2 linked regions of the Homo sapiens genome follow. The protein of the gene in region 2 purifies or fractionates together with the protein of the main gene of each other region. This does not show direct contact. Each region holds a gene or a part of one and is shown on either strand. Other genes may lie near its edges. The genes, in order: PNPT1 and NVL.

The links.
Region 1: the proteins of NVL (region 2) and PNPT1 purify together in Homo sapiens (affinity purification with mass spectrometry; one large-scale study listed by BioGRID and IntAct). This does not show direct contact.

Annotation. Positions count from the first base shown.
Region 1 is NC_000002.12:55,683,531-55,687,352, forward strand, and holds part of PNPT1 (polyribonucleotide nucleotidyltransferase 1, mitochondrial precursor), read right to left. Parts: intron 2,915-3,822; coding exon 2,840-2,914; intron 1,519-2,839; coding exon 1,413-1,518; intron 305-1,412; coding exon 255-304; intron 1-254. UniProt on the Homo sapiens protein: RNA-binding protein implicated in numerous RNA metabolic processes. Catalyzes the phosphorolysis of single-stranded polyribonucleotides processively in the 3'-to-5' direction. Mitochondrial intermembrane factor with RNA-processing exoribonulease activity.
Region 2 is NC_000001.11:224,302,415-224,306,236, reverse strand, and holds part of NVL (nuclear valosin-containing protein-like), read left to right. Parts: intron 1-1,070; coding exon 1,071-1,203; intron 1,204-1,424; coding exon 1,425-1,501; intron 1,502-2,379; coding exon 2,380-2,514; intron 2,515-3,822. UniProt on the Homo sapiens protein: Participates in the assembly of the telomerase holoenzyme and effecting of telomerase activity via its interaction with TERT. Involved in both early and late stages of the pre-rRNA processing pathways.

The sequences.
Region 1 (3,822 bases), on a different chromosome or scaffold from region 2:
TGAACCTGGGAGATTGAGGTTGCAGTGAGCTGAGATCGTGCCATTGCACTCCAGCCTGGGCGACAAAGTGAGACTCTGTCTCAAAAAAAAAAAAAAAAAAAGTACTATCTTTTTTCAAAAACGTAATGTAAAATATAACAGTATCATAAAAAATTCTTATGTTCTTTATAATGTTTACTCTAGGAAATATTACAGAGATTCATTAAGTAATTTTTGATTGATCTGGCAACTAAAAAACCTAAAGCAGAATCTACCTGTGTATCATAGAAGTAGCCAGCTGGAAAGAGCGGTCTAATTGAACGATCTGCCAAAAGAAAAAAAAACACATTAAACCGTACTGACAGAGTTGCTTTACAGTTCAAAACGTTTGAACTAATATAGATAGCCATTCAATATGTTTTCAAGAAAAATCCCCTTGGACTGATTTACTAAGAGGGACACAGATAAATGTCAGTGCTTCCATTATTACATACCATGCCCTAACAACAAAAAACAAACACAGAAGAAGCACATTAACAATAAAGATTGGGGAGCAATTTTTCATTCTGGTTCCACAGGCAACAGTTACATATATAAGCAGAGCAAAGAGACTTAAGACCAATAGCAGACCAAAAGAAAATGCTTCCTTGCTACTTTGTGTCTGAAGACTGTATATAAATATACATAAAATAGCAATTTCTGGCCGAGCACAGTGGTTCACGCCTGCAATCCCAGCACTTGGGAGGCTGAGGCGGGTGGATCACGAGGTCAGGAGTTCAAGACCAGCCTGACCAAAATGGAGAAACCCCATCTTGACTAAAAATACAAAAATCAGCCAGGCATGGTGGTGGGCACCTGTAATCCCAATCACTTGAACCCGGGAGGTAGAGGTTGCAGTGAGCCGAGATCGTGCCACTGCACTCCAGCCTGGGTGACAGAGCAAGACTCTGTCTCAAAAAAAAGCAATTTCTGGGTAGAAGAGCTATAAATTACATATGATCCCACAATATGTAGGGATGTTAAAGATTTGAAAGATTATGGACATATTTCAGTAGCTGATGAACATAATGTTTAGGAATTACTATTCTGAACATGAAAAAATGTACTAGGAATAGATTCAACAAAGTAGAGGCATGGGCCAAAAAATTCATATGCTCAATAGAGATTTACTCATTTAGTCAACAAATATTTATTGAATGCCTATTCTGTGCTAAGCAGTATAACAGGTACTAGGGATTCAACCCTGAAGAAATAAAAGTTTTTTCTTTCACAGTGCCCACATTTGAGTGAGGGAAGAGAAGGAGTGAATAATCTTAGGTGGTGTTAATGCTATGAAGGAAAACTTAAGACTTATTGTAGAACACAGATGCAAGAGAAGAGATGCTAACATAGGCATACCAGAGAAGATGAACGCCTCTATGTTAATATCTTACCTATTATTCGACTTGTTAGAATTTCTTTATCAGAAGTACCAATCTCTCTTCTCAGATAGTTTGTGGGAATTCTACCTGCTGCAGCAGCTTTTTGTCTGTAGTCAACCTGAAGCAGCAATAAAAAAAAGTTCATATAATTCTTTTTGCAGAAACAAACTATACTGTATGAATGCTAATTCTCCTGAGGTTGCTAACAACACAGTCTAGACTCAGAGTAGAAAATGTTATTTACTTAGCATTTTGTATCTTTTGGGGAGAGGAAAGTTGATAGAAATGTTTCTGCAAAGTGATTTTAAAAAACGTTCAGGTGCAGTGGCTCACGCCTGTAATCCCAGCACTTTGGGAGGCCAAAGCAGGAGGACCACTTGAGGCCAGGGTTTTAGAACTGCCTGGGTAACACAGAAAGACCTTGTCTCTACCCCCAACAAAAAAAAAATTAGTTGGGCACAATGGCCTGTGCCCATAGTCCTAGCTACTCAGAAGGCTGAGGTGGGAGGATTGCTTAAGCCCAGGAGTTTGAGGCTGCAGTGAACTATGATCACACCACTGAACAACTCTAGCCTGGGTGACAGAGCAAGACCCTGTCTCTTAAAAAAAAAAAAGTCTTCTACTCAACAGTAAAAGTGGAAGAAGACTCACTATTTGCCACAGATGCTCATTCTGATCAAGTCAAACATTGCTTTTTTTTGGTATCAACTCTGTTAAATATAATTGTACACCCCTTTTCATAATAGAAGGGAGCTATAAAATTCTCATGAGCTCATTACTAAATATACACAGTTGTCTCTTGGTATCCCTGGGGGATTGGTTCTAGGACCTCTTGCAGATATCAAAATCCATGGATGCTCAAATCCTTGATGTAAAACACCATAGTATTTGTTTATAACTTACGTATATCCTCTCATATACTTTAAATCATCTCTAGATTACATATAATCCTTAATACAATGTAAATTCTACATAAATAGTTTTTATACCGTATTGCGTAGGGAATGACAAGAAAAAAAGTCTGTACATATTCAGTACAGATGCAATTTTTCCCCCAATATTTTCGATCCATGGTTGGTTGAATCCATGGATGCAAAACCCAAGGACATGGAGGGCTGACTGTACTTGCAGAGTCATACTGAAGGGAAACTATGAGGGCAATGAATTCATTGCTTATTCAATGTCAAAGTACTCATGCACTTCCAATCTTCTTGTCAACTTACGCACCTGGACGTTCCAAATTCTAAAGTATGCTTAATCCTAGTATTTGTTTATGAAGCAGTTTATACTCTTTTAATGAATCAGTATCAAAAAACTAGGAAAAATTCTTTGTTGTGCAAGTTTGTATTTTCCACTCACTAGACACTGGACAAAAATATTATACATTCTACACTTTACTCAGACCATATTACAGTTCAGATAAATCAGCAAATACTTACCACCAAAGGCATAAACTGGGAAGGGGAAGGTTTTGTTTTACTGACCGCTGTGACCATTACTGCAGTGTCACCTGACTTAAACATAAAGAACAACGCTGGTAAGTTCCTTTGAAATCAGATATTAGCATCTAAGTAGCAACTGAATAAATCCTTACTCCAATTAAACTCAAGAAAAGATATCTAATTCTACGACACGATTATGAAATAAAAAATATTCACAAGTAGTCCAATCTTGATCTCTGAGCTTTTCAAAAGCTATGGAATCAAAATAAGGAAAGATTAACAGGTAATTTAGTCATATTCAATGAATTGAATAGTATTCTCTACTTCTTATGTGGCTATACATAAGGAAAAATTCCCCAATTATTACTATAGAAGAAAATACCAAAATCACTTTCTCTAGAAAAGCACAACAGAATTTATTAACGCATAAAACAGAAGCCCAAGTTTGGAAAGGATGTTAAACGTCACTTAATACGGCTGGGCACGGTCGCTCACACTTGTAATTGCAGCACTTTGCGGGGGCAAGGCAGGTGGATCACGAGGTCAAGAGATTGAGACCAGGCCAGGCGCGGTGGCTCACGTCTGTAATCCCAGCACTTTGGGAGGCTGAGGCAGGCGGATCACGAGGTCAGGAGATCAACACCATCCTGGCTAACACGGTGAAACCTCGACTCTACTAAAAATACAAAAAATTAGCTGGGCGTGGTGGCAGGTGCCTGTGGTCCCAGCTACTAAGGAGGCTGAGGCAGGAGAATGGCGTGAACCTGGGAGGCGGAGGTTGCAGTGAACCGAGATCGCGCCGCTGCACTCCAGCCTGGGCAACAGAGTGAGACTCCATCTCAAAAAAAAAAAAAAAAAAGAGATCGAGACCATCCTGGCCAACATGGTGAAACCCCGTCTCTACTAAAAATACAAAAATTAGCTGGGTGTGGTGGTGCACGCCTGTAGTCCCAGCTACTCGGGAGGCTGAGGCAAAAGAA
Region 2 (3,822 bases):
AGGCTAGAGTGCAGTCACTTTTCACAGGCTTGATCACAGAACACTATAGCCTTGAAACCCTGAGCTCAAGTGGTCCTTCTGCCTCTCAAGTAGCTGGGGCTACAGGTGTGTCCCAGTGTGCTTGGCTGAATTACACTTTGTTATGACTGTCAAAGCAGCTCTGTAGTTATATTTAATTTAGTGAATCATCAGCTGTCAGATGAAGACAACTATATAGAAGACTCAGTGAGAAATAAAAGGCAAATATCAGTGTCCTTAATCAAGGAGCTCACAATTCAGTGAGAAAGACAGAGATAAGTGAATCACTCATACAAGGCAGATTATTCCAACTGATAATAGCTGCAAATGCAGTGTCTTGGGAATGTGAGGACAAGATTAAATCTAACTGAAAGAGGGCCGTGCAGGGCGGCTCACGCCTGTAATCCCAGCACTTTGGGAGGCTGAGGTGGGCAGATCACCTGAGGTCAGGAGTTCGATACCAGCCTGGCCAACATGGCAAAACCCCATCTCTACTGATAATATAAAAATTAGCTGGGCATGGTGGTGGGCTACTTGGGAGGCTGAGGCAGGAGAATTGTTTGAACCTAGGAGGTGGAGGTTGCAGTGAGCTGAGATCGCGCTGTTGCACTCCAGCCTGGGTGACAAGACTGAAACTCTGTCTCAAAACAAAAACAAAAACAAACTCTAACTGAAAGAATCTGGAAAAGAAGCGGCATTCAAATGTTAAGATTTCTTTTTTCTTTTTTTTTTTTTCCCCATATGGGATGCTTCACAAATTTCCATGTCATCCTTGCACAGGGGCCATGCTAATCTTTGTATCATTCCAATTTTAGTATATGTGCTGCCAAGGCCAGCACCAAATGTTAAGATTTAAACTGAGCTTTAAGGGAATGAGGAGAAGGACTTTCACAATAGACAGCATCTTTGAGCAAAGAGATTGGGAATAGTTAACAGAGGTGAAAGTGCTAGGGCAGGAATGAATTTTCTTTACAATGCCCCTCTTTAAAAAGTAAAACAATTATTGGCATAGAATTTTAAGCATGGCATATTTAAATTTATTTTCTTTCCAGGATTCAAAAGATTCTTCTCTTTTGGAGAGTGATATGAAACGGAAAGGCAAGCTAAAGAATAAAGGAAGCAAAAGGAAGAAAGAAGATCTTCAGGAAGTAGATGGAGAAATTGAAGCTGTCCTGCAAAAGAAAGGTAAGGTGTGAGTCTTGTTGGTGGCAGTGGTCATGTTTGCAGTGAGAGAAGCATCATTCTGTCCCAAGCTATTTTGCTTGAGGGACCTTCTATGTGCAGAAATGTTTACCAGGAAATATTTCTATATTTAATGGACCTTTGTTTACTTAAAGACTATTCATTATAATTATGAGTTACTACTGAATCATTAATCTTTTCATCTCCTCATTTTTGTTTACCAGCTAAAGCCAGGGGGTTAGAATTCCAGATCTCCAACGTGAAGTTTGAAGATGTGGGAGGCAATGATATGACATTAAAAGTTAGTGCAAATTCTGAATTTTACCTCAAATGGATATATTACTAATCAGTTATGAGGAAAAAGCCTACCTCTTTGTTTCTAATATGATCTGGGTGTAGAAAAGGAAACTGGGAAGGTTGAGAAGGGCAAACCTGACCTGTACCCTTTAGGGCATTGCAGGAGAAAAGATGCATACTATTTTGAACTTTTCTATTATTTTAATTATAGTATATATAAGATCCATGCTTTATAAGTAATATTGTCTTAGCAATACTAATAGTAATGGTAACTTTATTTTTATTTATTTTTTATTTTATTTTATTTATTTATTTTGAGAAGGAGTGTAGCTCTGTCACCAGGCTGGAGTGCAGTGGCGCGATCTTGGCTCACTGCAACCTCCGCCTCCCAGGTTCAAGAGATTCTTCTGCCTCAGCCACCCGAGTAGTTGGGTTTACAGGCATGTGCCACCACGCCCAGCTAATTTTTGTATTTTTAGTAGAGACAGGGCTTCACCATGTTGGCCAGGATGGTCTTGATCTCCTGACTTCGTGATCTGCCCACCTCAGCCTCCCAAAGTGCTGGGATTACAGGCGTGAGCCACCATGCCTGGCCGTAATGGTAACTTTATTTTTAATGCCTACTCTTTTTCATCTGCCATGCTAGTTAACTTTGCATTACATCCTCAAGGTATATAATGTTACAGCTTAGGAAATAGCTCCTCAGAGAGGTTATTGCTGAAATCACACAGTAGGTACCAGAGCCAGGATTCAAAGTCTGATCTAAGTCTAAGGTGTATATTCTACCTATCTACTCCATTTCACTGCTCCGAAAAATAGGACATTTCATTCTACTTTGATTGTTCTGTCTTGAAAGACATCTTTGTGCTTATCCTCTGCTAGGAGGTCTGCAAGATGCTCATACACATGCGTCACCCGGAGGTGTACCACCACCTGGGCGTCGTGCCCCCTCGTGGAGTTCTCCTTCATGGACCACCAGGCTGTGGGAAGACATTACTTGCACATGCAATTGCTGGGGTGAGGCTTGCTGACATTTGTTTGCTTTTGCTGTTTTTGTTGTTATTATTTGTTTTTGTTTTTTCTCTTTGGTCAACTTAAACCAGACATGGCATTCTTCAGGAAGAGAACATAGTCATTGGAACTGATCCCTTTGTTATCATGCTGGTATTATTTGTGGAATTTATTCATTTAGTTTATTTATTGTTTCTCACGAGCAACTTGAGGGATTTTTTTTTTTAATGTATGTAATTGTTTATATGGCAAGAGTTAGATAAAAAGTAAAATAATACAGTTTTTTTTTTTTTGGAGACAGAGTCTCACTCTGTCACCCAGGCTGGAATGCAGTGTCGTGATCTTGGCTTACTGCAACCTCCGCCTCCCGGGTTCAAGCAATTCTCCTGCCTCAGCCTCCCCAGTAGCTGGGACTACAGGCATACGCCACCACGCCCGGCTGATTTTTTGTATTATAGTAGAGACGGGGTTTCACCCTCTTGCCCAGGCTGGTCTTGAGCTCCTGAGGTCAGGCAGTCCACTTGCCTCAGCCTCCCAAAGTGCTAGGATTACAGGTGTGAGTCATCGCACCCGGCCATAATAATACGGTTTTAAACAAACCTTTTTATTAACACATAGCTTACATTTTAGTTACTTTGCTTTCCCTTTAACCCAATAGTTATTTCAGTTTACTTATTTTTTTGAGACAGAGTTTCACTGTCACCCAGGCTGGAGTGCAATGGTGCAATCATGGCTCACTACAGCCTCAACTTCCCAGGCTCAAGTGGTCCTCCCACCTCAGCCTCCCGAGTAACTGGAAACACAGACACATACCACCACGCCCAGCTTATGTTTTTGTTTTTTTGTAGAGACGAAGCCCACTATGTTGCCTGGCTGGTCTTAAACTCCTGGCCTCAAGCAGTCCTCCTGTCTCAGTCTTCCAAAGTGCTGGGATTACAGGCATGGGCCACTGCACCTGCCCTCCCAGTGGTTCTAAGGAGCAGTAAAATAAGAAAACTAGGGTTATATTATTTTTCATATAGCTAAATTTATTCAAAATTTTTATTTAGAGTCATGTTCTTATACTTTTTAGTTTTAAAATAATTCTTTCTAAAATGGTAATAATAGACACTTACTTTGAGAAATTAAAAGTTAGCAATCTTATTTTAACCCTCTCAGATTTTTCAGAAACTGTAGGGGACAGTAATGTAAAATATCCGAGTAACTTCGATTAGAAAAATAGCATGCTCGCCGGGCGCAGTGGCTCATGCCTGTAATCCCAGCACTTTGGGAGGCCGAGGCATGTGGATCACCTGAGGTCGGGAGTTCAAGACC